Linked DNA regions of Homo sapiens: all the other regions are reported to be linked to region 1. The links are microRNA targets in miRTarBase. Many come from high-throughput screens and were not tested one by one. Region 1 holds a microRNA gene; each other region holds the end of a gene's coding sequence. Distances are from middle to middle.

Evidence for each region. Region 1 holds the annotated microRNA hsa-miR-1262 (AUGGGUGAAUUUGUAGAAGGAU, at 3,001-3,022, opposite strand). A microRNA usually pairs through its seed, bases 2 to 8, with sites in the 3' UTR of a target mRNA and lowers its output. Matches are read on the target gene's strand: a 7mer-m8 pairs with bases 2 to 8, a 7mer-A1 pairs with bases 2 to 7 and ends in A, and an 8mer does both.
Region 2: miRTarBase lists CDC73 as a target of hsa-miR-1262. Seed matches in the 3' UTR shown: 7mer-m8 at 5,361-5,367.
Region 3: the mRNA of IRAK2 is a reported target of hsa-miR-1262. Seed matches in the 3' UTR shown: 7mer-m8 at 4,322-4,328.
Region 4: the mRNA of NRF1 is a reported target of hsa-miR-1262. Seed matches in the 3' UTR shown: 7mer-m8 at 1,872-1,878 and 7mer-m8 at 1,914-1,920.
Region 5: the mRNA of FCRL2 is a reported target of hsa-miR-1262. The part of its 3' UTR that is shown has no 7-base or 8-base seed match.

What each region holds. Positions count from the first base shown.
Region 1 is chr1:68,180,576-68,184,575 of GRCh38, forward strand. It overlaps MIR1262 (microRNA 1262), which reads right to left and starts at 3,035; the gene lies at 2,943-3,035. All of the region lies in intron 2 of WLS (Wnt ligand secretion mediator), which reads right to left. The region is part of intron 9 of GNG12-AS1 (GNG12, DIRAS3 and WLS antisense RNA 1); the gene reads left to right.
Region 2 is chr1:193,249,046-193,255,613 of GRCh38, forward strand. CDC73 (cell division cycle 73) reads left to right here. Exons shown (of 17, transcript NM_024529.5): 16 at 685-826; 17 at 1,631-5,770. The coding sequence ends at 1,667. Among named protein-coding and RNA genes, the nearest start is that of LINC01031, 52 kb to the right of the region's middle.
Region 3 is chr3:10,240,832-10,247,399 of GRCh38, reverse strand. It overlaps IRAK2 (interleukin 1 receptor associated kinase 2), which reads right to left. Exons shown (of 13, transcript NM_001570.4): 13 at 3,655-5,284. The coding sequence ends at 5,172. Among named protein-coding and RNA genes, the nearest start is that of TATDN2, 4.3 kb to the left of the region's middle. RefSeq lists a silencer at 4,775-4,844.
Region 4 is chr7:129,753,753-129,760,320 of GRCh38, forward strand. NRF1 (nuclear respiratory factor 1) reads left to right here. Exons shown (of 11, transcript NM_005011.5): 11 at 1,266-3,324. The coding sequence ends at 1,429. It also overlaps the pseudogene RNA5SP244. Among named protein-coding and RNA genes, the nearest start is that of MIR182, 13 kb to the right of the region's middle.
Region 5 is chr1:157,742,366-157,748,933 of GRCh38, forward strand. It overlaps FCRL2 (Fc receptor like 2), which reads right to left. Exons shown (of 12, transcript NM_030764.4): 9 at 6,510-6,568; 10 at 6,188-6,253; 11 at 4,506-4,534; 12 at 3,368-4,409. The coding sequence ends at 4,371. Among named protein-coding and RNA genes, the nearest start is that of FCRL2, 31 kb to the right of the region's middle.

The sequences.
Region 1 (4,000 bases):
CCATCACAGCTGTAGATCATGTGCCTGCTCTTTTGACCTCCACATTTTCACCACCTGTTTCTTTGTTGGATTACCAATAAATAGCATGGGCTCCCAGAGCTCAGGGCCTTCACAGCCTCTGTACACTAGTGATGGCCCCCTGGTGTCCCAACTTTCTCTCTCAAACTGTCTTTTTCTCAATCCTTTGACTCTGCTGGACTTTGTCACCCCCACAACCTGGTGTTGGGTCTGATCACCCCAACACAAGAGAGATAGATTCACTATGCAATTATTTTAGCAAACAACCTGGACCAGAACAAAGCCAGAACCTCTTCTTCCTATAAAGAATTACTACTATCTCTCTACTAACACCATTACTAATGACTCACTAAAGCAAAAGAGGATCTGGAACTGTTTCTAGCATCAGTGTGTAGACAATAGGTAGGGTTGGGGAAAATGGTTTTTTCCAATGTAGAGTCCCTAGCACTTTTGCAAGCAGAATTCTGCCTTGCTCTCATTTAACTTCCTTTTGCTTAGAAAAATATAATCCAGAAAATAATCTTAACTTCATTTTTTTAAGTTAACCAAGATAAAGTTGTGAATTCCCCATAAAAGAACCTCATAATAGCTATGTTATGACCAGCTGGCATTTAAATACTGAAAGACCCAAAGTTAGAAGAGGAGGTGAAAACAAAAAAATACCTTCTATACATTGGGGGCACCATTAAGGGATGTGCTGCTTCTGGCTTCTCTGCTCTTCACATTAGTCAATGATGTCACCAGGTTTTTATTTTAGTAATCAGGATATACTTGTATGGATGCAAAGAGAATATCCTCATTTATATTCTAAACTCAGAGCAGGAAATGAGACACGTGGGTGATCTGCAGCTGTGGCACTATAAACAGGGCCAGCCTACCACCTAGTCTAGATTCTAGACTGCACTTCATTCCCTGAAATACTGATTGGGAGATTTTAAAAAATTGAAAATATATCATTTTAGAAAGACCAGTGCATCTTCTGTGCAAGGATCTTAGAGTCCGCTGTTTGGTAGAAGGCTGACTCACCTGTATGGGGTGGTGCACGTGTTGTTAGGTACCATCTACCTATCTACACCACTGATGTACAACGAGGAGATCCTGCCCTGGCTCCAGCCAGCTGTGCCACCGTGGGCGAGTACCACAGAGTTCAAGCTTTCTCCAGCTGCTAAATTAAAGGATTAGTGCTTTAACTTGGGTCAACCACCCATTTGCAAACCTGACAAGAACCACAAACACTCTTACTTCAAAAATGCATATAAGCAAATACCACTGAAATTTTATGTAGAGTATCAAGGGGTTCTCTTAGCCCTTACACTCCAGTCTAAACTGCTTGGTTGATGATTGTTAGACCAGCAGCCCTCTAGTATTCCTTTCAGCACTCCAAGCTAAAATAAAACAGCTGATGTTTAGTAACAATTTCTGCAAATTATTCAACACCATAGAAGAGTGTTTTGTTAAGACTAGAGACTAATCTAACACAATCTACTCAACAATGTTAAATTGACCAGTAACCAATAGATGACTAGAAGAAAGTGTATGTAACTAGATATACCAAACTATAGATACTAATTTTAAAATCTTGGAAAGGTTTTGGAGGAGCCCTACTGTTTCTGAATTGGAATTTTTCATTTGCAAATACTTAACAAAACCCACCAAGCCAGATAGAGCTCTATAGCGATGCCTATGGAGGAGCCTTATAATGATGTTGTCCAAGTAATGTGCTTAACAATAATCACACTCAAAGCCAAAGGTTCCCATGCTCCTGCCAATATAACATGCTCACAACGGTCAATTCCAAAGGAAGAGCTGTCAAGAAGTGCCTGAAGATTTCCTCAAAGGGAGAGATAATTCATGAGCAAACAAACATCATGTCCCTAATCTTCTCTATCCTGGGGTAAACAAAATATAGTTTTCTCCCATGATTTCAGTTGCTTTCTATACCAAGTCAGTAAGTAAAACTGATTCATACTGGTAACTTCCAGGTTCCAGCCTTGGTTTGAAGGGGCACACAATTCAATAAGAGTAAAGAAGACTGGCCATGTAAGCCCATCTTGAATACTGACAACTTCCGTACCATTTACCTAACACTACAAACCCTACTCCATTTAAGTCTCTGAGATCTTTTTGATGTATTTTGAGCTTTTCAACTTGCCTTTTTTGGTGGGAGAGGAGGGAGGAGGAGAACAAAGGGAGAATTTGAAGTTTTTATTTCTGCTTGCATTGACTCAAATTGTGGTAAAGAAACTTAAAAGGTAACTTTAAAATTCTAGTGACACTAGCCAACAATGAAAACTATCTAATTAGAATGTTAGAGGTTTTTTTTGTTTGAGACAGAGTTGCTCTGTTGCCCAGGCTGGAGTGCAGTGGTGCGATCTCGGCTTGCTGCAACCTCCACCTCCCAGGTTCAAGTGATTCTCCTGCCTCAGCCTCCCAAGTAGCTGGGATTACAGGCACACGCCACCATGCTGGGCTAATTTTTGTATAGACAGGGTTTCACCATATTGGTCAGGCTGGTCTTGAACTCCTGACCTCAGGTGATCCACCCACCTCAGCCTCCCAATGTGCTGGGATTACAGGTGTGAACCACTGTGCCCAGCCAAAATGTTAGATAGTTTTAACACAGGCTATAACATAGTCATAAATTAAAGAAGACATGGTCGTAAATGAAAGAAGACCTCTTTTTGGTGGGAGTAGTAGTAGGGGTGGGAGAGTAGAGTTATACATTTCTTCTTAGCAGTTGCTTCAACATATTTTATTAATAAGGACTATCTGCTGAAGCACAGAAATACAATTATGTGAATATCATACTACCAATGGCCTGTTCCATCATAGCAGGGATAGTTCTTATAGTGTATAAAATCCTCTGCCCCATTCAGCTCTCTTTATGGAGCTTTCCTCAGAAGCATCAGAAAACACAGAATTAAATATCACAATTCTTGTTGAAGGCCAAAAATTAGTTCCCAGAAGGATTCTTTGACTTTCATCCTTCTACAAATTCACCCATCACCATTGTAGATAATGTGAGGGGTGAATTTGTAGAAGGATGAAATTCAGAGAATTGTTTATGATCAATAGATTGTTCCCTTTATTCCAGTTGTCTTCCCTTGATGTCCACTTAACATTCCATAATAAATGGACAAATGGAAAAGCACAATTACTCTGCCAAAAGTCAGTCAACATTCTCCCAGGACACTCAGCCATCTAACTTGAAAACTGACTGGTAATAATATCATTCTAATTACTTTAACTAGAAATTTGTTATACAGAAATGCTTTCAGTGTGGGGAAAGAAAAATCACTTGCCACTTATAGAAAGAATTCTGCTTCATGTGACCATTTGCAATAATGAAACAAGTAAGACAACACTGGGTTCCAGTGTACAGCACAAGGATCAAGGCGAAACATAATGCTTTCATTACGTAAGAATAGGACTGACATTATTCTGGCTTTCCCCTACCCTTCATCATTTACCAATATTTTTTCAGTCTCAGGAATTTTTCAACCCCTGAAACTCCTAGATTTACTACTCAAGACACAGCTATCCATCTTGAGGCTTTCTGCCAATGGCTCTAGTGCTTCTATTTCAACAGCTTATAGATTTGAAAGCTGGAAAGAGAGATATGTAAACAAATTCTCTAACTTTGATCTATGCACCCAGGTTTCTCAAAAGAAGCCCTTGGAGAGTCTGGGGTATACTAAGTGTATGACTTGCAGTTGTAATCATTAGAGTGACAACCCATTTCCAGTGGGTACCGTTTTAGCCAACCCAAACCTTTCTTTTCCTAATGCATAGAGTGACTTTTTAAAAAATGGTATATTTGGGAAAGTATTTTAGAATGGCATGTTAACAAAACAAAAACACTCTAGAATATATTTTCAAATAACAGAACTTGGCCTTACCAAGAGGTCTAATACCATCAGGTAAATAATCATTTTTATCAGTGATTCATAATACATCCAGACTCTAAATGTTAAGGCTGACT
Region 2 (6,568 bases), 130 Mb from region 1:
CATACTGTAGAGAAATCTTCTGTGAAAGGCAGAGTCAATCAGTGCAGCAAACTTCATTGTTGTCTTATTTTCAGAAATCGCTACAGCCACCCTAACCTTCATCAACCACCACACCCTGTTCAGTCAACAGCCATCAACATTGAGGCATAATCCTACACCAGCAAAAAAAATTAGGACTTGCTAAAGGCTCAGATGATTGTTAGCATTTTTTAGCAAGAAAGTACATTTTAATTAGGGGATGTACACTGTTTTTTAGACATAATGCTATTGCACACGTAATATAGACTGTGATACAGTGTTAACGTAACTACGTAACTTTTATAAAAATGCAATGAGGTACCAGGAAATATGCGTAACTCATTTTATTATGATACTTTATTGCGGTGGTCTGGAACTGAACCCACAATATCTCCAAGGTATGGTTGCACTCTTATGTTTCTGTGATAACGTACCAACCTTATAGTCTTTCTTACTGTCCTTCACTAGACTATATGCATTTTATCTTACCTTATTCCTCATTTTAGTGTCCAGTGGCTGGCGTGTATAAACCCTGAATGTTTTTAAAGATAATATTTTAAAAGATCACTTTAGTTATAATACGGCTTCAGTTGGTGGAATAAAGAAATTTTTTTCTTTTTTTTTATTTTGAGTAAAAATGATAACTTCTCTCCACCCTCTCTATAGTTAAAGCCTTCCATCTGAAGTATGATGAAGTTCGTCTGGATCCAAATGTTCAGAAATGGGATGTAACAGTATTAGAACTCAGCTATCACAAACGTCATTTGGATAGACCAGTGTTCTTACGGTTTTGGGAAACATTGGACAGGTAATTCCGATTCTAAAATATGCTTGTGTGTGTTTTATTGTAATTTTTCTGTCTCAGTTAAATTTTAAGTTCCATAGAGTTGTCAGTCTTATTCCCTAATTCCCTTCTTTCAACATTAACTTGATGCTTATCTTCAGTACATAATTAACAATTTTTTATTGTATAATTACTTTAGTTGGAGAATTTAGCCTGATAGAAGTAACACTAAACTGAGTCAGAAGACTTAGACTTTAGTCTTGGTTTTGTAATCTGTCTCTAATTATCTGTGTGACCTTTTTGAACCTTATTTTCTATCCAAGGAACTTTGGATTAAGAGAACCCTGTGTTTTTTGCAAGTACTGAAAGATCTATGATTCTGGATTTATTTGTGTTACGGATGGTTCACAAAAGGAAATGGTTTTTTAAAATTTATTTTAATTACTAGTATAGTGTTCATAAAGCCCTTTACATTAATAACAGTTTTGTAATCGGCAAATTTAAGAACAGCCTATAATCACAGTAAATACCACTGAATCGGTTCTCTTTGAGGTATGCTCCTTAAAATCTGTAACATTTTTGGTGCAAGTCTCTCATATCTGTGAAACATATATTATTTTAGCTAGAAGCTCTTAGATTATATTACTTAATAAGAGGAGTGTTATTTCTAGCTTATTCCAGAGTCTTTATATTTCCAGTTTTCTAGAAAACAGCATTTTATTCTGTTGATTTTAAGTTTTAAGAAATGTCAACTTGTTTTTACATGCATTATTCTAAAAATTCTAAAATTCCTATAGTCATTATAACCTACCATAATATTTTTTTCAGGTACATGGTAAAGCATAAATCGCACTTGAGATTCTGAATTATTTGGCTCCTCCATTTCTGGAAATTGAGACTCAAGCTTTATGAATTTATCAAGAACTTAAAAATGAAGAAGGTCACAGATTGATCTTTTATAAGACCTTATTTGATGCTTTGTGCTTCAAGGAGATGATACCTGTCATCCATATAAGCAAACTTTTTGGCTTACAACTATTTTTTTAATATTAGCCTTCTAGTCTGTAATGGAAATTGTATATTTTGATAGAAGTTTTTTCTCCATTGGTTAAATTAGCATTACTTAAAATTTGTTTCTTTAGAAAATAAATGCAGGTTATAAATGTGTGTATATTTAGAGATTATAAGGCTCTCTGAGCCATCTTCTGATTTTTCATTGCTCTATAATTCTTTTTACTGAAAATACTATGTTATGAATGGTATTAAATTTTAGTCTCTGGAACATCCAAAACCAAGCAAAGGGATGTGACTATTTTGAATGAATCAGAATGTCAACTTGTATGTACACTATATCTACACTTACTCATTATTTAAAAAGAATAATGAAAAATCTAGATCAATTCTTCAATTTGATTGAACTGTTCAGCCTTTTCAAGATTTCTTTATTTACAAATGATTACATTTAAATGAATGTACATTCTTCTCACTGACTTTGGTGATTTTGAAACCTAGAATGATGTGTTTCTATCTGTAATATCTTTCCATTTGAAAAAAATCTCAAAACACAGATTAAAACCACAATAGGCTGTAGTATTTTTTATTTTGGGAGCCAGAGTATGATTTGGGGGAAGAATATGTATCAGCCCTATTGCAGTATAACTTTAAGCTCCTTTTCTCTTTAGTCCACTTTTGATTGTAATTTTTATGGTATAGGATTTTGAATCTTCTATTTTAGGCTTGTCAGTCTTGGAGTTCTTATCTTCCATTATCCCTAAATATTGATAAACTCCCAGGCACCAAAGAAAACATTTGCTTAATTGTCTGAAAAGAAACAAGAGAAAAACACTGGTATTTTTATGTCTGTATTCAATATGGTATAAAATATAAAAACTATATTTTAACTTAGTGAAATATTTTACTATTTCTCTACTTCAGACAAAATGTTGCATCCAAGGTACATCAAGTGACCATTTGCCTTGAACCTTGATTTCACTTTGTTTTTTTTTTTTCCTTAAAGGCAACTAGGAAGCTTTACTTTCCTAAAGTGTTTTTGCCATTGGAATTTTTGCTGATCACAGTCTTATGTCATTTTTTTCTCTGTTTTTATTCCCAGCAATTTTCTCCTAGGTTAACATATTTTTGGTGAACGTTTAGGCCTTTCATAGGTATTAAGCTGACATTATCTAGCTTCTTAATGAAATTTAACACTGTCACAAAAATGAGAAGTTATTATTTTTTAAGTGATCACATAGTTCATACCACTAGTAACTAGAAAAGATATTTATTCACATGATATTTACAAGGCTCTTCAGAAGGGAACAGTCAGCATTTTAAATTACTAGATTTTAGCATACTTAACAAGGTTTGAACAGATTCTACCCCTATTTTCCTCCCTTTTTAGCGTCTTCTTTCCTTAAAGATAAAAGAAAACTCAAATTTGTTTACATTAGGCTTTCTTAGCATATAAATATATTTCCAAAATAAATTACATGTTGTGTAAACTTTCTCCATGATGAAATAGTCAAGGACCAGAATCTGTAATATTTTTATGTAAGATTACTTGTCAAGACTACTACAAGTCAGTATGAACTACCTTCCCATAAAGATTTTTGGTATTTGTACTTATTTATGAACTTTACTTGAGACAGAATATGGTTAAAATTAGGAACATCTACTTTGAATGAGGTTTATTTTTCTATTTTGAATTTGCCTTATGTATATTCAAAGGCTTATGGAAATACTGTAAAGGAACATTAGGAAAAGGACAAATAGGCTATAACCATCTATCTTAAAATCAGACCCTTAGTATAAGCACCTCTTTTTCTTTTCCTCTTTGACAATTTAGTCTCTTATTTAGGTCCATGTAATTAATTTCATTCCATTATTTTTTAGCTGTTTATTCTAAAAAACAAAAATTTTCAGCCACTCCCATTTATTCTCCCATGACATGGTCCTATATAGCAGTACTTAACACAGTGCCTTGCACATAGTAGGCATTCAGTAAATACTTACATGCATGAATGAATAATGTATTTTCAGTGTAACAAATTTATTATAAAAGTGTAGTTCGACTCTTCTTGGTCTTGGAGTTTGAGAGTACAGAATTACAGGGAATGAAGAGAGGTATAAGTAGATATTTTAATGGAAATGAAGTATAAATTAATAACTTGACTTACCCCTCCATAAGTTACTGCTAACTGGAGATACCCTTGTATGCCCAACCTGTAAAGGAAAAAGTTCTATTTCTATATTTATAGGACATTCTTCTCAGTCAAGGAACAGTAAGAAATATGTAGGTTTCAATCAGTTGCTCTCAACCCTGACTGCATTTTAGAATCATTTGGAGAGTTTTTAAAAATATCCATGCCTGAATCTTGATTCCCATTTTCATGTAATTTGAGACAAGACCTGGTCATCAGTATTTTTTTTAAAGTTCTCCAGGTAATTTGAATGTGCAGGAAGGATTCAGAATCACTGGTTTAATTTGTTATTGAAAACAGTACCAGTATTAAATGTGTTTCCTCTTCCTTCTTTTCTGTATGTATGTGTGGTTTTTGATTTTTTGTTGTTGTTGTTGTTTTGTGGCCACCCTTTGCACTAGACCATCCCTTTTATTGGTGGTATTGGCCTATATTCCCATTGACAAATGCAATTTTTAATTATTTATTTAATATAGGAGTATTTTACTGTTTAATATTTAAACAATGTTTAATGTATTTCATTATTAACTAGTATTATAGTTTGTTTTTTTCCCATGTCTCCATAACTTTTACTAACATTTGTTTTTAGCAGCACAACAGTAATCCATATAAAAACAACTAATTCATAATGAGGAAAATCTCATAATTTTTAAGGCAGAAAGAAGTATTAATTTTTGATCTGCCATGTAGAATGAGACAAATACAGTTTGCTTATGAAAGGAAAGTGGCATACTTTTAAATTGGTCTACACAGAAAAGTAAAAGTAAACTATTCATTTAAATAAGATTCATTATCTAATAAATATTGAGGGAATATTTTTCCTAAATAAAAATTTTTCTGACTGCTAACAAAAATTAAAGTGATTACATTGTTCTTTTTTGGAGGGGTGGGGAGGAATATTTGTTGAACTAAAGTATATAAAATTTTTTGAGACTAGCAGTATATTTTATAATATTACAAATACAACAATTATTTATAAAAGCTAGTCAAATTAATGGCTTAGAAAGTAGCTGTAAACTTTGTGTTTTGAAATTGCTTGTTTAAATGCAAAATTATGAGTAAGATAAGTCTTTTTAAATTTTTTATTTTTAATTTTTTTGGAAGTTTATTAAAGCCCTTCATATACACATACTTTTTAAAAAAAGATTCTTAATAAAGAAATTATTGGTTTGTCTGGTTAAAGTCCATATAGAATGCTGAGAAATAATTTATAAAATAAGAACTATAGAAATTTGTTCTCAGCTGAAAAGTTGGCAGCTGCTCTGTTTCTTTAAAAAAGTACAACATGAAAATTTAATTACATTAGCCTTAATATTACTTGACTGAATTTCTACTATTTATTCACTTGTGTTTGAGATTCACCCAGCTATTCTAATGATAGAAATAAAAAGTGGAGAAATGACTAAAGTTGACTTAAGTTAAGAATTGGAGTGGGAATTTTGAAATGCCATGTCCTATATATTCTGGCATATTTGTTGGCACATTTGCAAGTATGTTGATCCCAGCATTGTTTATATCTGTTGGAATAATAACTAAGGAAAAATTGAAAATGTATAATAGATGTATAAAGATTTATATTTAGTTAGTATATAATAGATAATACTTGCAGGTTTTTTATGTGTTTTGGGTTTCTGTGTATTATTTTAGGTAATCTTTATAAGGGCATCTTGGAAGTTATAAATATGTGCCATTTACTGAAAAGTGGGAAGCATTTTTATATGAGTAAAGCTAATGAAATAAAACTAGTTTTATTGCCAAAATTCAAAAAGTGGGGTTCATGCTATGTCGAATTTAAGCAAATGATCTGTCTGAGGATTTTGTTTGCCATTGAATTCCATTTCTGTCCACTTTAAATTTACTAAAAGCTATTTAACCTGAGTTTGATTATAATGCTTCATAAGTAATGCAGTTCATGTACATAGAGTAAGTGCTGTAAGTGATTTTTTAACCACCAGTTGGTGCTGTTTCTCAAAGTGGTTCTTAATTAGAGTTTAAGTTTGGGTGCCATGTGAACTCATAAAATATTCTACTCATTCTTTTTGTTTTTCTTTGTTTTGTTTTCTTTGTTTTATTTTTCATTCTGTTTGTTTTTCTTTGTTTGTTTTTGAGATGGAGTCTCACTCTGTCACCCAGGCTGGAGTGCAGTGCTGCGATCTTGGCTCACTGCAGCCTCCACCTCCTGGGTTCATGCAGTTCTCCTGCCTCAGCCTCCCGAGTAGCTGGGATTATGGGTGTGCACCACCACACCTGGCTATATTTGTATTTTTTAGTGGAGACAGAGTTTCACCATGTTAGCCAGGCTGGTCTTGAACTCCTGACCTCAGGTGATCCACCTGCCTCGGCTTCCCAAAATGTTGGGATTACAGGCGTGAGCCACCATGCCTGGCCTGTTCTGTTCATTCTGATTCCAGTTTGGTGGGCTCTTAAATTTTAGGTTCAATTGTAAATAAAACATGTTGCCCTATTTTGTTTTAAGAGCACTAGGGACATTTCCATTCTCCCTTTGTCCTCAATCCCCCAAAAACATTCATACGAAGAAGTTAGAAGCTGTATTGTGGGCTGGAAT
Region 3 (6,568 bases), not on the chromosome of region 1:
AGGTGGGAGGATCCCTTGAGCCTGGGAAGTCGAGGGTCCAGTGAGCCAAGATTACTGCCACTGCACTCCAGCCAGGGAGACAAAGTGAGACCCCTGTCTCAGGGAAAAAAAAAAAAAAAGGCAAAGGAAGCAATGAACAAAAACAAATCATGAAACGCTCCTAAATATAAGAAAGATGGCTCCACCTCAACCATTAAAAAAGTACATGTAAGGCCAGGTGTGGTGGCTCACGCCTGTGATCCCAGCACTTTGGGAGGCCAAGGCGGGCAGATCACGAGGTCAGGAGATCGAGACCATCCTGGCTAATACGGTGAAACCCCGCCTCTACTAAAAATACAAAAATTAGCCAGGCGTGGTGGCAGGCGCCTGTAGTCCCAGCTACTCGGGAGGCTGAGGCAGGAGAATGGCGTGAACCCAGGAGGTGGAGCTTGCAGTGAGCCAAGATTGCGCCACTGCACTTCAGCCTGGGTGAGAGACTCCGTCTCTAAAAAAAAAAAATTAATTAATTAAATTAAATTAAAAAGTACATATAAAATTATAATTTTCCACTCGTTAGATTGGCAATAATCAAAAAACAAGGTAAGGGGCCGGGTGCGGTGGCTCACGCCTGTAATCCCCGCACCTTGGGAGGCCGAGGTGGGTGGATCACGAGGTCAGGAGATCGAGACCATCCTGGCTAACATGGTGAAACCCCATCTCTACTAAAAATACAAAAAAAAAAACAAAAATTAGCCGGGCCTGGTGGCAGATGCCTGTAGTCCCAGCTACTCAGGAGGCTGAGGCAGGAGAATGGTGTGAACCCGGGAGGCAGAGCTTGCAGTGAACCAAGATCACGCTACTGCACTCCAGCCTGGGCAACAGAGCAAGACTCCATCTCAAAAAAAAAAAAAAAGCAGGATAATATACCTTGTGGCTGAGGATGTGAGGAAATGCACTCCCATACATCCCTGATGAACGTGTTAATTGATACAATCTCCTTGGAAGGTGGCATTGTCTGTAGTAGCTAGAATGAAAACAAAACCTCAATCTCTATCAGCTGGTTATATACATTAAGGAATATCCATACAATGGAATGTAAGGCAAAAAGAATGAAGTGATCTAAACTTACTGTTGAGGAGCAATAGCCAAGAAAGACATGAAAAAACAAAGGACCTAGAAAAGCATTAACAAAACACATGTGTGGCTAAATAGAGAGGAGTGGCATACAAAGGTAAATGTGGCTTTCTTTTTTCAAATGCCTGAGGGTAACCACTTTGTGTGTTCCTTTCTAACAGCTTTAAGATATAATTTATATACCATAAAGTTCACTCATTTAAAGTGTATGAGCAGCAGGCATGGTGGCTCACGCCTGTAATCCCAGCAATTTGGGAGGCCAAGGTGGGCAGATCACAAGGTCAGGAGTTCAAGACCAGCCTCAACAATATGGTGAAACCCCATCTCTACTAAAAAGAAATACAAAAATTAGTAGGGCATGGTGGCATGTGCCTGTAATCCCAGCTATTCAGGAGGCTGAGGCAGTAGAATCGCTTGAATCTGGAAGGCAGAGGTTGCAATGAGCCAATATCGTGCCATTGCACTCCAGCCTAGGCAACAGAGGGAGACTCTGTCTCAAAACAAAAAAGAAGAAAGAAAACAGGTGTATGACCAGCTGGCCTGGTGGCTCACTCCTGTAATTTCAGCAAGACTGTAATCTAGTTTGTCTTGATAGATTTGCCTATTCTGAAAAAATTAAAAATGGAATCATACAATATGTGACTTGCTTTTTCTTACCATGATCTCAAGGTTCATCCATGTTGTAACGTGTCAGTATGTTTGAAATGCTTGTTCCCCAGTGCCATAAAGAAATAGCACTTGAACATAAATAATTTTCTCAGCAAGGCCATTTTTACACTTTCTGCAGAAAGGGTACACTCGCCAGCAGTTTTGCCACGAGTACACCCAACAAAGGAGACAGGGTCATTTATAACCTGACGTATCCACCCTACCTCTGGGTCCAGTTTCCATTGGCTGAAACGGGACTTCACATTCTGTATTTGTCTTGATTGGCTAACAACTTAGAATTTTTTCAGAGGCAAAAGCAGAGGAGAACAAAGGAAGGAGGAAGTAACTTGTGGAATGCTGAGAAAGGTAAAAACACTTTCAAATAAGGAAGAGGAACAGGCTATGACTTAATGCTTGCTTGCACCAGTATAACCGTGCCAGGGCAAATATTTAGGCTAAATTGTGGGAGTTAAGAACATAAAGTACATTGATTTATTATGGCTAGCAGGTATTTAAGAATGTTAGGTCTTTGAATAAATTTTGCTTCTAAGAGAAGTTACTATTTATTCCTAATTAGATGGGGAGGAAAGTCTTTGAAGAGGAACCTCTACTTTACTTTTCACAAGTACTTAATTCTTTTCTATGGCTGAATATTCCATTGCATGAATAGACCGCATTTCATGTATCCACTTATCAGTTGATGGATATTTAGGTTGTTCCTATTTTTTGGCTGTTATAAACATTGGTGTGCAGGCTTTTGTGTGGACATGTTTTCATTTCTCTTGGGTAGATACCTAGGGGTAGAATTGCTAGGTCATATGGAAATTCTTACCTTTTGAGGAAGTGCCAAACTGTTTTCCAAAGTGCTCACCATTTTCAATTCCCACCAACAGTGTGTGTGGGCTCCAATTTCTCCACATCATGGCCAACACTTGTTTTTGTCTTTTTGATTATAGCTATCCTAGTGAATGTGAAGTGGCATCTCATAGAGGTCTTGATTTGCATTTCCCTGATGACTAAGTTGAGCATCACCTCTGTTTTCCATCACCTCTGGAAGGATACTCCAACCTAGTGACAGTGGTTGCCTTTGGGAACAAGAAACTGGAGACTAAGATCCCATTGAGAAAAAGCCTGCCTTCTCACCATGGAACCTTTGTACTGTTTAGATTTTTAAATCCTCTATTAACCTAAAAAAAAATAATTCAGGGCTTCCCTACGGGGGATCCATGAAAAGACATCATGGTGCCCATGAAGGTCTGGAATTCATGGACTCAGAACGCATATGTATGTATGTCTGTATGTAGCAAAGGTCTAGAGCTTTCATCCAAGTCCCAAGGGGATTTACTGACTTCTCCAAAAATATATGAAATCCTAGTCTAGAAATGTAAGTATGTCTGGATAACCACAAACCTATTGGTGTCAGCCCTCTATTGCGCAAACAGCCCTGGAAACACTCTGCTTATAATTGTAAAGTGTTCGCAACAGGCCAGGTCCCATTTGGGGCACAAAATGCACATTCACCTTGAATCCTCACAGACACCAGAGCTGAAGACAGGGCTGTCTGTATAGATCACTGTCCACCTGGACTGGGACCCAGCTCAGCTACATCACACATCAAGCCAAAGCTGTCCTTACTGGGGAGCTGCCAAATGTTTCACCAGGCAGGACCCATCCAACAACAACCCTACAAGATGCGTACGTTTTCTTTTTCCCATTGTACAGATGAGGAAACAGAGCCTCAGAGTAACTCCCTAACTGGGCCCAAGATCATGCAGCTATTAACAGTCAACAGTAAGAGCCAGGATCCTAGCTCTTTGCTACCCCATCTCAAGGATACAGAGTGCCTTCTCTAAACAAATTCTTCCAGACACAAAACTAATTACAAGTTGTCTGTCGACTTTACAAATATATTTTTATTATATAAAAAGAAATTACTATAGATTACTTTAAATAGGATATTTCTCCCAGTGAATTTAAAATAGCATCTGTTTCACAGAAAGATTTGCAACATGACTTTTCAGATATATACGCACTGAATAATCATTAGGTACATGGCAGAAATACACATTTAATACCTTTTTATTTTACAAAACAGGACAAGTGCATTTTCCAAGTGCTTCTATAGCCACTGTCTCATCTGTTCCTCCCAACAGCCCAGGGATGAAGAACAAGCAGGTGTTATTTTACTTACAAAGAAACTGAGGTCCCAAAAATTAAATGATTGACTTAATTAGCAGCAGAATCAGACATGAAATGCATTCTCCTGATTCTTCATAATCCAGTCATAAATAACAACACATATTCTCGGCCGGGTGCGGTGGCTCAAGCCTGTAATCCCAACACTTTGATAGGCCAAGGCGGGCAGATCACGAGGTCAGTAGTTCGAGACCAGCCTGGCCAATATGGTGAAACCCTGTCTCTACTAAAAACACAAAAATTAGCCAGGCATAGTGGCAGGTGCCTACAGTCCCATCTACTCAGGAGGCTGAGGCAGGAGAATCACTTGAACCTGAGAGGCAGAGCTTGCAGTGAGCTGAGATCGTGCCACTGCACTCCAGCCTGGGTGACAAAGTGAGACTCTGTCTCAAAAAACAAACAAACAGACAAACACATATTCTCAGAATAAAAGCTCCATTAAAAAACACTAACATTAGTGGGATGGGAAGATAAAGGTACCAGGCAGTGACTGAATAATTATGTGAATTGCAAGATTTCCAATACAGGCAGTGGAAAGCCTGCAGAGCTCTTCGCTAGGTGTCTGGCATTTGTAGAACCTGAGGCCCAGAGAGGTGAGTCAAGAACTGCACTGAGACACAAGTTGAAAGTCTTCCAGGCCAGGCACAGTGGCTCCCAACTGTAATTCCAGCACTTTGGGAGTCTGAGGTGGGAGGATTGCGCCAACAAAGCGAGACCCCATCTCTACAAAAAAATTAAAAACTAAAAAAAATCTTTCAGAGCATGCAAGCTTGCAGGCTGTCAGCAAATACAACCCAGAGATCTTAGCTCTGGAAAATGCTATGGCATTGCAGAACTGCCAGTGGCGGGGGAACAAGAGCTGCTGAGGTAATGGAATCTGCTGGGGGTGATTATCATCACATACTCCCCGGAACCACAAAATCAGCCACATCCTGGGCCCGTGTGCAGGGTTTCTGCTTCAGTCTCCTCTGATCCCCTGCTCTGACTAACAAAGCCCAGAAAGGAAGAGACTTCATGGATTTTTGTGTCTCTAAAAGCTGAGGGCCTTTCTCTCCCAACTCATTCCAGTGAAATGAAGTTTCCCTCCCACCCAGGACAGCAGATGTTTTGTTGTGTGTTTCCTGGCAGATCTTGGATTCTGCCTCAGACCTTTTTCTTGATCTGATGCTCATCTTTCCAACTGAGGACAAGGGTCCTCAGCTGTGTTCCGGTCATCAGGGGCCAAAGAGCTCAATGCTGTCCACTTTTTCCTCTTTGTAGAGCAGAATATTCTCCATCAGTTTCCTTTTGGCCTCATTGATCTCAATTTGCCACGAAGTTTCTGTAACTGATGTTCAACAGAAAGCAAACAAGAGCGACTTGAATGAAAGTTACTATTATTATAATTCTTAAAGTCACTTAAATCAGGTTTCTGAATCAGGCCCTGAGTGTAATGAGCATTTCTTTTTTTTTTTTTCTTTTTTTTTTATCGAGACAGGGTCTCACTTTGTTGCCCAGGCTGGAGTGCAGTGGCACAATTTCAGCTCAAGGCAACCTTGACCTCACAGGTTCAGGTGATCCTCCCACCTCAGTCTCCGGAGTAGCAGGGACTACAGGCGTGCACAACCACACCTGGCTTTTTTTTTTTTTTTTTTTTTTTTTGAGATGGAGTCTCACTCTGTTGCTCAGGCTGGACGACACACACAGTTAATTTTTTTGTGTTTTAGTAGAGAAGGGGTTTCACCGTGTTGCCCAGACTAGGCTTGAACTCCTGAGCTCAGGCAACCCACCCGCCTCGGCCTCCCGAAGTCCTAGGATTACAGACAGGCGTGAGCCACCACGCCCGGCCTGTGAGCCACAGCACCCAGCCCATTTATTTATTTATTTATTTATTTATCATTTGTTGAGATGGAGTCTCACTCTGTTGCCCAGGCTGGAGTGCAGTGGCTCAATCTCGGCTCACTGCAACCTCTGCCTCCTGGGTTCAAGCAATTCTCCTGACTTAGCCTCCTGAGTAGCTGGGATTATAGGCGCCCACCACCACGCCCAACTAATTTTTTGTATTTTTAGTAGAGACGGGGTTTCACCATCTTAGCCAGGATGGTCTCGATCTCCTGACCTCGTGATCCGCCCGCCTCAGCCTCCCAAAGTGTTAGGATTACAGGCGTGAGTCACCATGCCTGGCTGGCCACACCTGGCTAATTTTTGCATCTTTCGTAGAGACAGGTTTTCACCATGTTGCCCAGGCTGATCTTTATACTCCTGGGCTCAAGCAATCAGCCCACCTCGTCCTCCCGAAGTACTAGGATTACAGGTATGAGCCACTGCACCCAGCTGTAATGAGCATTTTCATCTCCTCTGTCTTTGCAGGAAGCCCTGCAACCTACCCTGGCCTTCCAGAAAGGAGAGGGTTTCCCTGTTCCTATTTATGATGTTGAGGGGTGGGAGGGTGGAGTGAAAAAAATGCTCACATCCTGTCTTTCTTCTTCCTCTCCCCTCCCCATGGCAGGAGGAGTAAAAGAGAAACAGGAGTGGTCAGAGCCTGGGACATTCATTGAACCATGTTTACTAAGGGACAGGGACACTGCATTGAAAGGGCCTTCCTGGTCGGGTGCGGTGGCTCATACCTATA
Region 4 (6,568 bases), not on the chromosome of region 1:
GTGTTTTTACATTTTACTGGTGTGTGAAATCTAGAAATCAGGAAACAAGTGACCTAGGCTTTAAAAATAAATAAATAAATAAAATAAGCTTGACTATGAAGGAAGGCACATAGACGGAGCAGTGGCCAGAAGACAGGATAGGAGAGGGACAAGATTTTTCTTTTCAAGCTGAGAGAGACTTAAGCATAGGCAGAAAGAGGGTTGAAGAAGGCAGTGTAGCCAAATATCAAAGAAAAATAATGGTGGCCTGTTCTGAGAGGGAGAAGACAGGCCGGGGACATTCACACCTGACGGGCCTGTGCTTCCTAGATGCGGAGGCAGGCAGGGCCCTCTCACGGCAAGCTGGGAAGGCCCTACCCTAAGGCATGTTTCCACAATTTCTCTAAACTTTTCTTTTCTGATAGTCTGTTTTAAAAAAATCAAAATGGTCAGGGTTGGTGGTTCACGCCTGTAATCCCAGCTATTCAGGAGGCCAAGGTGGGAGGATCACTTGAGGCCACGAGTTCAAGACCAGCCTGGGCAACACAGCAAGACTCCATCTCAAAAAAAAAAAAAATTATATTAGCCAGGCATGGTGGCACACGCCTGTGGTTCCAGCTACTCAGGAGACCGAGGTGAGAGGATCACTTGAATCCAGGAGTTCGAGGTTGCAGTGAGCTGTGGTCACGCCACTGCACTCCAGCCTAGGCTACAGAGCCAGACCCTGTCTCTTAAAAAAAAAAAAAAAAAAAGTTAAAATGGAAAAAAGTTGATTTCCTAGAAGTAGAGAGTAGAATAATAGTTACCAGAGTCTGGGGAAGGGTTGGGGAGGGGGGCAGGAGAGGTTGGCCAGCAGGTGCAAAGGAAGAATAAGTTCTGGTGTTCAGTTACACAGTAGGGTGACTGTAGCGAATAACAATGTAGTCTGTGTTTCAAGATAGCTAGATTTTGAATGTTGTCACCACAATGAATGATAAATCTTTAAAGAGATTAATATGGTAATTTTCTTGATTTGATCATTCTACAGTGTATACATGCATTGAAACATCACATTGTACCCCATAAACATGAACAGTTACTATATATCAATTATAAATCTTAAAAATTAATGAAAAAAATTTTAATGGGGTGGGAAAGAGATGTCTTTGTGCCTGGGCCATGGGTATGTGATCACCTGAGGCTGGTGACCACGATACCTCAAAGGCAAGACTTGGGTGCCCCCGTCCAGCCAGCATCTGGGAACTTGAGCCTGAGCCCCACCAACGGTCTTCTCTTTGTCTCTCCAGGCCTGGTCCAGATCCCTGTGAGCATGTACCAGACTGTGGTGACCAGCCTCGCCCAGGGCAACGGACCAGTGCAGGTGGCCATGGCCCCTGTGACCACCAGGATATCAGACAGCGCAGTCACCATGGACGGCCAAGCTGTGGAGGTGGTGACATTGGAACAGTGACATACAGCCATATTATGGCATCGTTTTCTAGTCTACTTCAAAATTTTTTACACGTTTGCAGAGGTGCAATCAAATGGAATTAAGTCTCTCGACTTTGGAAGGAAAGTTTTGTTAACCTTTTTTTTTTTAAAAGGAAGAAAGCGGATTTTGGAATTGCATTTTTTAAAGCACCACTCTTGATTTTCTGGGATTGGTGAAGAAACTGCATTGTCAATTTCACTGTCCCAAAAAAGCCAAATTGTGGCAGGACTTCTTTCTGCGGAAATGTGTGTGTATACTTATGTGTGTGTATGTGTGAGTGTGAATATATGTATATGTGTACATATGGACATACACATTTACATATATATAAAGTATATATATACATATATATATATATATATGTATGAAACCCGCATGGAATTATCTGTATGAAATCAAGGTGCGCTGTGGAAACAATAATTCACCCAGTTTAGTGGGTGGTAGGGTACGTGGCCAGACACAGTCACCCAGTTTTTGTTCATACCAGGGTCATGCGTTGAGCTACTGACAAACTCAGGCGGAGGTGACCATGCCCTTCACCAAAGCTGCCTCCCAGTGGCCACACAGAACTCTCCCTGCTGGACTCACCTGAGGAAAGAGGCTCCAGCATGGGGTGGGTCAGAGATGTGCTTGCAAGGTCCAGGGACTGCGTGGTCTGCCAGCTGAGATGCTCCTCGGGCTGGCCCAGGTGCTGACCTTGCCACAGGCAGATGAATGTCTTGAAAGCTCCCGGGCCTCAGCCTCCCATCTCCTCTCCTTCCCAGGAATCCTTGATCTCATGACTATTAAAATGTTGCTCTGGTTTTAAGGTCAGTCCTGAATTGCTCGTATATATGAACTGAAGGTAACCGAAGTATTAGGGGTTTGAGGAGTGCGTGCGTGTAAGTGTGCTTGTGTGTGTGCGTGCATGGTGGGGGAGAGGATGGGAAGGGGGCGGGGGCAGTGGAAGGGAAAGGAAGGAAAGAAAAATCGTCCTAGACCAGGATACACCCGTGGGAGCAATTTTCTCTACTGTCTGTAGCTTCACAGAGGAGGCGCTGGAATGAACAAGAAGAGACATCTGGTCTGTGGCCACAGCACCCTGAACGCCCCTGATCTTGTGTGATCTTGGAAGCTAAGCTTGGTTGGGCCCGGTCAGTACGCGGAAGGGAAGAAGGGACACCTGGCCATAGAAAACAGCTGAGGGTGTTTGCTGTGTTCCTGGATCAGGCCCTGCTTCAGAAGGGACTCCTGGAGGCCCATGTTCCTTGATGCAACCTCGTGGCCCAGGCCGGGAGCAGCTTGCCTCCTCAGAGGTGTTGACTATCTGGGTGTTCTTGGTAACCGTTAACTCTGTCTTTCTCAGCTGCAAGCCCTGAGTCTCCAGTAGCTGAATTCACCTGACTTTTCAACAGGCCAAATCTCTGAACCTTGAGTACAGGGACAGCTCCTCCTCCCTCCTCCCAGCTCTCCCCATGTGTGTGATGGTGTATTTAATGTGTTTTTTTAATGCGACATTAAAAGATTCTCCACGTCTTGCTCAACCTTTGAGAGAAGTTTCAGATTCTTGTATTTGCTTGTTTTATATAAAACTATCTAATGTTCTTTATATGTTCTTTTCTGTACGTAATGGGGGGAGGGGAGGGAAATTTACATATAAATAGTCCTAGTTCTACAATTTGTTATTTTTTTAATTATTATTTTTTATCGTCATTGTGAAGTTGTCCAGGGACTTTAAAGTCCATGTTCCTTTGTGGTGAAATAACCTCCAAATAGTTTGAGAAGTTGCCAAGACGAAGAAAAAAGCAAAACCCCAGTAGCAGAGCATGGATTCTGTGTTGTTTCCCATTCTGTCTTTGACTGCCTCATTCAATAAATAGTTAAAAATGTGGCAACAGGAAGTGGAATTGTTCATCTCTATAGGAGCTCTTGGCTTCTTAGGCAAAAGGAACTCTATCTTGGGGCAGCTCGTTCTGCGTTTAAAATGCAGTCCTACTCGAGATCAGCGGTCTCCGACCTGTGCCACTCCGACGCTGGGGACCTCCGTAAAGAAGACACTGAAGATTGCCCAGAGCCCCCTGCGAGCCCCATCACCAGACCTGCTCCATTTCATACATTTCATATATAACGTGTTTTCTTATACTGACGTTCTGGGGAAAAAATCGTATTTAAAAAATCCTAGGCCGGGCACAGTGGCTCCCGCCTGTAATCCCAGCACTTTGGGAGGCCAAGGTGAGTGGATCACTTGAGGTCAGGAGTTCCAGACCAGCCTGGCCAACATGGTGAAACCTTGTCTCTACTAAAAATAGAAAAATTAGCTGGGCATGGTGGCGGGCGCCTGTAATCCCAGCTATTCAGGAGGCTGAGGCAGGAGAATCGCTTGAACCCAGGAGGCGGAAGTTGCAGTGAGCTGAGATCACACCACTGCACTCCAACCTGGGCAACAGAGCGAGACTCCATCTCAAAAAAAAAATAAAAATAAAAAATGAGGGTGAGTGATGGTGCCTCTCCATCTTGGGAATTACTATTAAAGTGAATTGTCTTTCTTTCTCCAAGCAGAAGCCTCAAGCCATGACTTGTTCCCCTGCATCCTCACTCCCTGGTTTCTCACACAGCTTACTCTCTTAACATGGCATATGCCATCGCTCCAGCTGTTCCTCCTGCCCCATCCTTAGGCCCTTCATAGACCCCAGTAGCCTGCACCTCCATGCTTCTGCATGCCCTGGCCTCAGCCTGGAATGACCTGCTGTCACCCCCACCACCCTTTCTTTATATTGTTGGGTGTCTTGGCCACTTTCCTGGTGACCATGATTAGAATGCTTGCTTGGATGGGAAGGCCAAGAAGCCTTTTCCTTGATGCCTGATGGTGGTTCAGTGAAGCCAAGTGCCTACCTTTCCCCCTTCTTGCACAAATGGCATACCCTCGCCTATTTTTCACCAGAGACTGGACTAGAAAAAGGATTGAGTGCAGCCAAATCAACCACACATCCGTGCTATTGACTACCATGAAATAGCTGGGTTGTTTAGAATACCTGCTGACCAAGGGTCTCTCCAGAGGCGTCTTCTAGCTGCTGTTTGCCTGGCAAGCCTCAGATGCTGCCTTTGCCACAGGCATGTATTGACAACTGGTTTTGGTGGGGCCGATGGAGACCTCTTCCATTCCTGCCTAAGTCACCAACAGGAGCTGCTAACTCCGCTGTCTATAGAGACCAGGGAGGTCAAATCAATGAAGGAAGCTGAGGCAATTCCCATGTGAGAGGAGGGAGTGATGGGGACAGGCACAGTGGACAGCATCCATCTAAACGGGGCAGCCTGTCCTAGGTGCTGATTGTCACCATGCAGGAAGATGGACCCTAATGCCCCAACTTCAAAATTGTCCAGAGAATCTGGGGAATCCAGATTTTTGTACGAGATGTGATCGCAACAAATAAAAAATTTACATACTCTGCAAGCAAAATAAAACCCATCTGTAGACCAGACCTGACCTGACGGTCAGTTGCACTTAACTACGTGAATGCTTGTCATGTGCCAGGTGAATGAAGCATGGTAGTTGCCTGTGAGAAACAAGGAGTGAGGAGGAGACCTTTACATAAACCAACCGCTGCAGTCCAAGGTGATGAGGCACCATCTGGACAGAGCACTAGTGCAGAATGAGCTGTTTACCGCATTTGAGCCCTCAAAGGTCCTCTGTTACGTAGTTTATCATCTAGGCTCCACACAAGGATCTGGTGCTCACAGAAACCAGGAGACTGGTCTAAAAGTTACTGGCTTTAAGTCTTGCATCTGAGAAGGCCCACTGGTGATACAGGTGACTACTGGCATTCTCCAAACTTGAACAAATTAGCTGAGGAGAACCAGAAGGGCAGAGCAGAGGAGGGGTTCCTTGCCCTGGGCCTCACTCACGCCCAAGGAACGCTCTCTCCCCCTCTCAGTAATGCCTCCGAAGCTTGAGCTCTGGGCATGGCAGAGTCGTACCGGGCTCCTGGTGTTTCCTTTTGGTGTCAGCACCAAAACTCATCAGGGAGGAAACTGGAGCTTAATTATTTGGAGCAGAAGCTACGTGGGGTGAGGGAGTAGAGTCCGTGTTTTCCCTCTCACTCCACCTCAGCAGGCTGGTGGCACCTTGGTCATCACAACTGGGGCTTCAGATGCCCCATCCCTGCACTCCCACCCGGCCTCTGCTGTTTACTCCAGGAGGCAGCTCTTGGAGGTCACCCAGGATGCTGGCGGCAGCATGGAGGAAGGGGTACAATAGAGAGGGGAGGCAGGGCTCCGGGACTGGGCTCCGACTGAAATCACTGAAGAGCGTGGGTTTCCTCTTAGTCCCCAAGCCCCTCTGAATATGAGTTTCTCCATCCTGAAAACCACTGGGCTGCTACCAAACATTTGTTGAGTATTGGAGGCCTGGAATATATAGTGAGGAAAGGAGGAAGAAGGGATAACAGTCATCTGCAGAGGGGAACCAAGGTGCCCTGAGAACCTAGAGCCTCCTTAGGAGGCAGGAATAGGCCTGGGTCCTGAGCCCTCTCCAGGGCTCAAGCTTTGCTAGCTTGCTTACGAGAACTATGGTTTGTCTACACAGAGTGTATGGTAGCAATGATAACAGTGAACACTTAGCCCTTACAATATGCCTTGTACTGTATTAAAAGATTTACCTATATATTAATTTATTTAACCTTTACAAAATACTATCATCCCCGTTTTATAGATGAGCAAACTGAAATACAGAGAGGTTAAGTTAAACAACTGAGCCAAGTTCACACTGCTGGTAAGAGGCAGAGCTAAGGTACAAACCTGGGCGGGCAGGCTGGCTGGTCCCAGAATCTGTGCCTAGAAAAACATGACTTGAGCCTCATCACTCTGTCACCCAGGCTGGAGTGCAGTGGTGTGATCTCGGCTCACTGCAACCTCCACCTCCCGAGTTCAAGCAATTCTCCTGCCTCAGCCTCCCTAGTAGCTGGGATTACAGGTGCCCACCACACCCAGCTAATTTTTTTGTATTTTTAGTAGAGATGGGCTTTCACCCTGTTGGCCAAGCTGGTCTTGAACTGACCTCAAGTGATCCACCTGCCTCAGCCTCTCTTAAGTGCTGGGATTACAGGTGTGAGCCACTGCGCCAGGCCCCGATGATACACTTTT
Region 5 (6,568 bases), 90 Mb from region 1:
TGTTATTTTAATTTATATTTTTCTAATGGCTAATGTTGAATAACTTTTCATGTGCTTATTATCTATTTTCTGTATTTAAATCCTCTTTGGAGAGTGTTCACGTTTTGTCCATTTTTAAATTGGATTGTTTATTTTTACTGTTGCATTTGATAGCTCTTGATAATGTCTAGATACAAGTCATTTGTTGGATATTGGATACAAATGTTTTATCTAAACCTTTAAATTGCTTTTTCATTCTATTAACAGGATCTCTTACAGAGTAAGATTTTTAATTTTGAAGAGATCCAATTCAGTGACTTTTTCTTTTATAAATGTTTTCTATTCTTTATTTTAGTGTCAACTCTAAGACCTCTTTACCTAACCTTATGCCATCCCAAAGATTTTTTTCACATGTTTTTCTCTAAATTTACTAAATTTTTACATGTTACACTTAAGCATGTGATCCATTTTGAATTAATTTTTATATAGGATGTGAGACTTAAGTTAAGGTTCATTTCCTTTGCTTATGGATGTCCAATCTCTTGAGTACTATTTATTGAAAAGATTACCCTTCCTCCTTTCGATTGCTTTATAGACTGTCAAAAATCATTTGAGCATATTTGTGTAGGTCTGTTTTGGAGTTCTGTGTTCTGTTCCACTGACCTATGTGTCTATCCTTCCACCAGTAACATCCTGTCATTATTACTGTAGCTATATAATAATCCTTAACATCAGGAAGAATAATTTCTCCCACTTTAGTAATTTCTCTCAAAACTCATTTTACTAGCTATTATTTTTAACAATGGCTAACGAGGAAATATCAGCTATAATATAATCATACATCTTAAACTCTAAAAATAAAATTAGCATGATAGCTGCCAAGAATGGACAGACCAAAATAAGGGAACAGAATTACAGTTCAGAATAGACAGTGAAGATGAGAAAAAAGTGATATTTATATAAATTTAACAAATTATGACCATGAACACTGGCTCATGTCTATAATCTCAGCACTTTGGGAGGCCAAGGCTGGAGGATCACTTGAGGCCAGGAGTTCAAGACTGGACTGGGCAACATTGTGAGACCCTCATCTCTACAAAAATATCTTTAAAATTATCTGAGCAAGGTGGCATGTGCCTGTAGTTTCAGCTATTTGTAAGGCTGTGGCAGGAGGACCACTTGAGCCCAGGACGTCAAAACAGTAAGCTATGATCATGCCACTGCACTCCAGTGTGGGTGACAGAGCAAAACCCTGCCTCAAAATAAATAAATAAATAAAAAAGCAGTAAAGAAAGTATCATAAAGAAGAGAGATATTTGTTTCAAGATTATTATCATCCTCATTATTATTTTTATTTTCATGCTGAATTTCTTTTCATATTACCATTAAAATGACCAAAGAAACAAAAATTAGGAGAAATGTGTGTAAGCACAATGACACATATACAACAGAAATTTTGATAAGATTTCATGTAGATAGAAGCAAATAAATGGAAATACCTTTGAGTGTCCCTGGGAAAGAACTTCATAGGAATTAAGCACCCTAAACATCCACCACCTAATTTCTCATCTCTGAGCATCCGGGACTGAAAGTTGGGATGTCCCATGGGGTTATCACAAAATGGGGTAACCTCATCCCTACAATTAACCCTGGAGCCAGCAGCTATCAGAATACTGAAGGCATGGCCATGGTGCCTACCTACAGCCATCACTGGACAGGACCAATGGCCAGTTAAAGGAGATCACTGTTTAAGTGTGCTTCTAAGGAGGACAGTCAAGCAGGTTGGGGTATTCTTATTTTTCTCAATGTTTCATGTGTATTTGGGTTCAACAAGGTGTTTTTAAGTGATAAAGACACATTAATGATCCTTAGACAAGTCTTAAAAAAATTGTGTAAAACTTCTATTTTTTAAAAATAAAAAGTCATTTTATTCCAATCTGTCTATTCACGTGAAGGTTTCTCAGTGCTGACATCTGTAAAAAAGAAAATTAAAATAAAATCGAGGGTTGAGATTTTTGCAGACTTACATTCTATATCCCTAACACTTGGTTCTTGTAGATTTTCAATAAATGTCTGGTGAATCAGTTGACTAAATTTATTTGTGGATACATGTTTCAATTCGAAAATGTTAAAAAGTACTCCAATGAGTCATTAAGAGGTGGATTTTAATACAATTTACCTTTTTATGTTTAATAATTTTTGAAAAAATGTGTAATTTATTCCCATAGTTTTGATCAGTTTTGTACCTATAATAATTCTAAAGATAATTCAAAGCAGAAGAAATGTTTTAACACAGAGCCTTATGATCACAGAAATTTTTTTAAATTAAAGTGATCAGTAAAACATTTTCAGAAATAAAGATGAATTACATTGCACCTAAAATTTTGAATGAAAAAATGCCAATGAAAATGTGCATTCACAGCCATAAAATTTTTAAAAAAAAATCACATGCACGCAGCGAAGGGAACAATAGGGGGCAAGGTGGGGATGGTTAATAGGTACAACAAAATAAAAAGAATGAATAAGACCTACTTATTAATAGCACAATTATAATTGGTAATAACTTAATTTTATATTTTACAATAACTTAATGTAACTGGATTGTTTTAAATGCAAAGGATAAATGCTTGGGAGGATGGATACCCCATTCTTCATGGCATGATTATTACACATTGCATGCCTGTATCAAAACATCTCATGTACCCCATAAATGTATATACTTACTAAGTATCTCATGTACCCCATAAATATATACACTTACTACATACCCACAAAAATTTAAAATTTTTCTTTGAAAAAGAAGACAACAATAGACGCTGGGGTCTACTTGAGGGTGGAGGGTGAGGAGAGAGTGAGGATTGAAAAATTACCTATTGAGGGCGCATTGGCTCATGCCTGTAATCCCAGCACTTTGGGAGGCCGAGGTGGGTAGATCACGAGGTCAGGAGATCGAGACCATCCTGGCTAACACGGTGAAAACCCGTCTCTACTAAAGATACAAAAAATTAGCCGGGGGTGGTGGTGGATGCCTGTAGTCCCAGCCACTTGGGAGGCTGAGGCAGGAGAATGGGGTGAACCCAGAAGGCGAGCTTGCAGTGAGCCAAGATCATGCCACTGCGCTCCAGCCTGGGTGACAGAGCAAGACTCCGTCAAAAAAAAAGAAAAAAAAAAAGAAAGAAAGAGAAAAATTACCTATTGAGTACAATGCTGATTACCTTGGTAACAATCTATACCAATCTGTAATCTGTACACCAAACCCCTGTGACATGCAATTTACCCATATAACACACCCACACATGTACCCCCTGAACCTAAAATACAAGTTGGAAGAAAGAAAAAAAGGAAAATGTGCATTCACAGAAAAAAGAAAATATGATAGTATCAAATCTATAGATTATTTACATTTTATTCTATATACTTACAAAAGTAATATCATAGTTTATTGCAAATACTCATATTTACTATGTCAAAAATCACATTTTTGCAACTATATGCATACTTTGGTGATATTGCAGGTTCAGTTCCAGACTACCAAAATAAAACAAATGCTGCAATAAAGCAAGTCACACAGATTTTTTGGTTTCCCAGTGCATATAAGTTATGTTTACACTCAAGTCGATGCACATAAAGAAGAAAATCTGGAGGAAACGGCTAAATTCCTGGAAACACACAATCTCCCAAGATTGAACCAGGAAGAGACAGAAACCCCTCCTAGACCAATATCAAGCGCTGAAGTTGAATTAGTAATAAAAAACTTACCAACCAACACAAAAGCCCTAGACCAGATGGATTCATAGCTGAATTCTACAAGATGCAGAAAGAATAACTGGTACCAATCCTGCTGAAACTATGCCAAAAAATCAAGGAGGAAGGGCTCCTGCCTAACTCATTCTATGAAGCCAGCATCAGCCTGATACAAACATTCTGGCAGAGACACAGTGGAAAAGAAAATTTCAGGCCAATATTCCCAATGAACATATTTGCAAAAATTCTCAACAAAATATTAGCAAACTGTATCCAGCAGCACATAAATAAGTTAATACACCACTATCAAGTCCTGTTCTCATCACTTCACAGTAGATGAAGGTGAGACCTTGTATCTCTTATTCATTCTTCCCTCAAATCTTTACACACTGATTGCTTAAGAGAAGGTAGCAGAAATAATTTATTTGCACAGTGTCTGGATGTAGCAGCAGTTCAATGAATATTGATAGGTAAAAGAAGATATTGGAGAAGAAACATCATCAGGACAAAAATGACAGGAGGTGCCTCCTGAGGCACGTTCTGGCTGTGGCAGGTGATAAGCCTCAAGCATTTTCATAAGGTTTTATAGCAAGTCTTAATGATGCCCCATCCTTGCTGTTGATCTTCCCTTCTGATTCCTCCAAGTGTTATGATTTCTTCACAGAAGAGTAGATGACTTGGGAGTCCTGGGAGAGACACACAGGAATAAAGACTGAGGTGATCAAGAAAATAAATAGGGAGAAGGAAGGAAAGATGAAGAAATTCCAAGGTGTCTAGCTCACCTTGTTCTCCAGAAGTGTCCTGATGTTTGCTGTTAAGGAAAAAGTAATAGTTCTGAGCTCTTGCATTCTTAATTAGGCCTCACTCCCAGACTTTATGCCCCAGGGCATAGAACTACTATGCTTAGTATGTGGAATCCCATTTTCTCCTGTTCTGTAAAATCCTTTCTTAAAGTTGTTAATACTGAAGTCCTTCTAAGACTCTATCCATCTTCCAAGCCCTCCACCAGCACTTACTAACAAAGCGCTTCCTTTCTCTAATGCAACTTCCCATAGGTCATTGTCTTTATAATTTTTTCCTCTTGACTTCTCTGTTGCAGCATTCTGTCAGGGCTGTTTCCTGTTCTTTCTCTATGTTCCTGAGATAACCAATCATGTGTGGTTCACCTCACTACATAGAAGGAAATTGGAATAGAAGCATAGATAACAGAAGACAGACTCTGAATCACATAGTATTTTGAGTCTGGTTGCAGGAGCTGCTTAGTGATGTCTGCTTCTTTTCCCCTTTTTCCAGGTAGGCATAGTGGGATGACATCCCTTTCCTTCCCTTGAAGATTTACAGCTAGAGGGCTTGGAAAGTGACTGCACTTTTTGATTCTGCTAGGCTGGTCAGATAGAGAAAGAGAATGATAGGGTAATCAACTCCCTATAGGAAGTTGAAGTGGCAAATCTAAGCAAGGCAGACAGAGGACCCACCTTCAGAGGCTCAGAGGAGAGTAGCTAGATGACCACTGACCAGGAAATCAGCCAAGCTGTCAACAGCCACTGGCTCCATCAGAGGCAACCAGGAGTACAGAACAAAGGACAGCTTTTAGGGTTGTTGATATAAGCATTGTAGTTTTAAGGGCACTGGAGCAGAAGCTTAAAGGACACTCCTCTGCACTGCTGCAGAACTCAGCAGTTCCTGCAAAGCTACGTGTCAAAGTGAAAATTCTCTAGGTCATGTTGATTTATTCAGTTATTCCTCCCATCCCATATGAAGACTACAGATCCTTCAAAAGAGACACTTTAATGACCCTGTTCACCTGAGAGAATTCCTCTTGGACTTTAGACATGCTCACTCTTGCCTGATTTCCTTCTTTTGCCTTGAATCTTAGATTCTCCCTGACTATCTAACCCGATTCAAATGAAGACTCATTAGACCATCACCCTATTTTTTTTTTTAAGTTTGCTCTCTTCACAAGAGCCTACCTCCAGGTGTCTCTTGCTCCCTCCTGGATCAACAGATTTCCTATCAAGGGCAAGTGATGTATTAAAGCCTCTATTGCTGGCTGGGTGCAGTGGCTCACACCTGTAATCCCAGCACTTTGGGAGGCTGAGGCGGGTGGATCACTTGAGGTCAAGAGTTTGAATCCAGCCATGGTGAAACCCTGTCTCTACTAAAAATACAAAAATTAGCTGGGCGTGGTGGCGCATGCCTCTCATCCCAGCTACTCAGGAGTCTGAGAGAGGAAAATCAAGCAATTTTCCTGTATCAGCTCACAGGCAGAGATTGCAGTGAGCTGACATTGCACCACTGCACTCCAGCCTGGGCAACAGAGCAAGGCTCCTCAAAAGTAGATAGATAGATAGACAAATAAATAAATAAATAAATAAATAAATAAATAAATAAAGCCTCTATTGCAAACAATGCATCACTTTCCTGTGAATATGCATCTGACAAGAACTACTTTGCAGTTTCTCACCTGAGCTTTCTGGCTGCTGCATGCTCCAGACCTGAGAATAAACCACATCCACATCTACAGAGCCCACTGCAGGGAGAAGACAAGAGTTCACAGATGTTGGTGGCCCAGGGTTCACACTTCATACACAGCTTCCCAGGCCCTGGCTTAATGATTATATCCTTCCTCTCAACCCCAACATGATTCTGAGAGAGTCTGTTATTTATTGGGAATGGCTGGGCCTCTGGTGTTGGGGTGTCTACACCACCCACCTAATGGTCTCCGCTCCTGTCTCCTCTTTCTTTTCTGACTCAGCCTCAGAGCCCTTCCCAGTGGAGACACTCACCATTGACATACACTGGCTGCAGCTCCTCCATGTCTGGGGTTGGGCTTGAATAGGTGAAC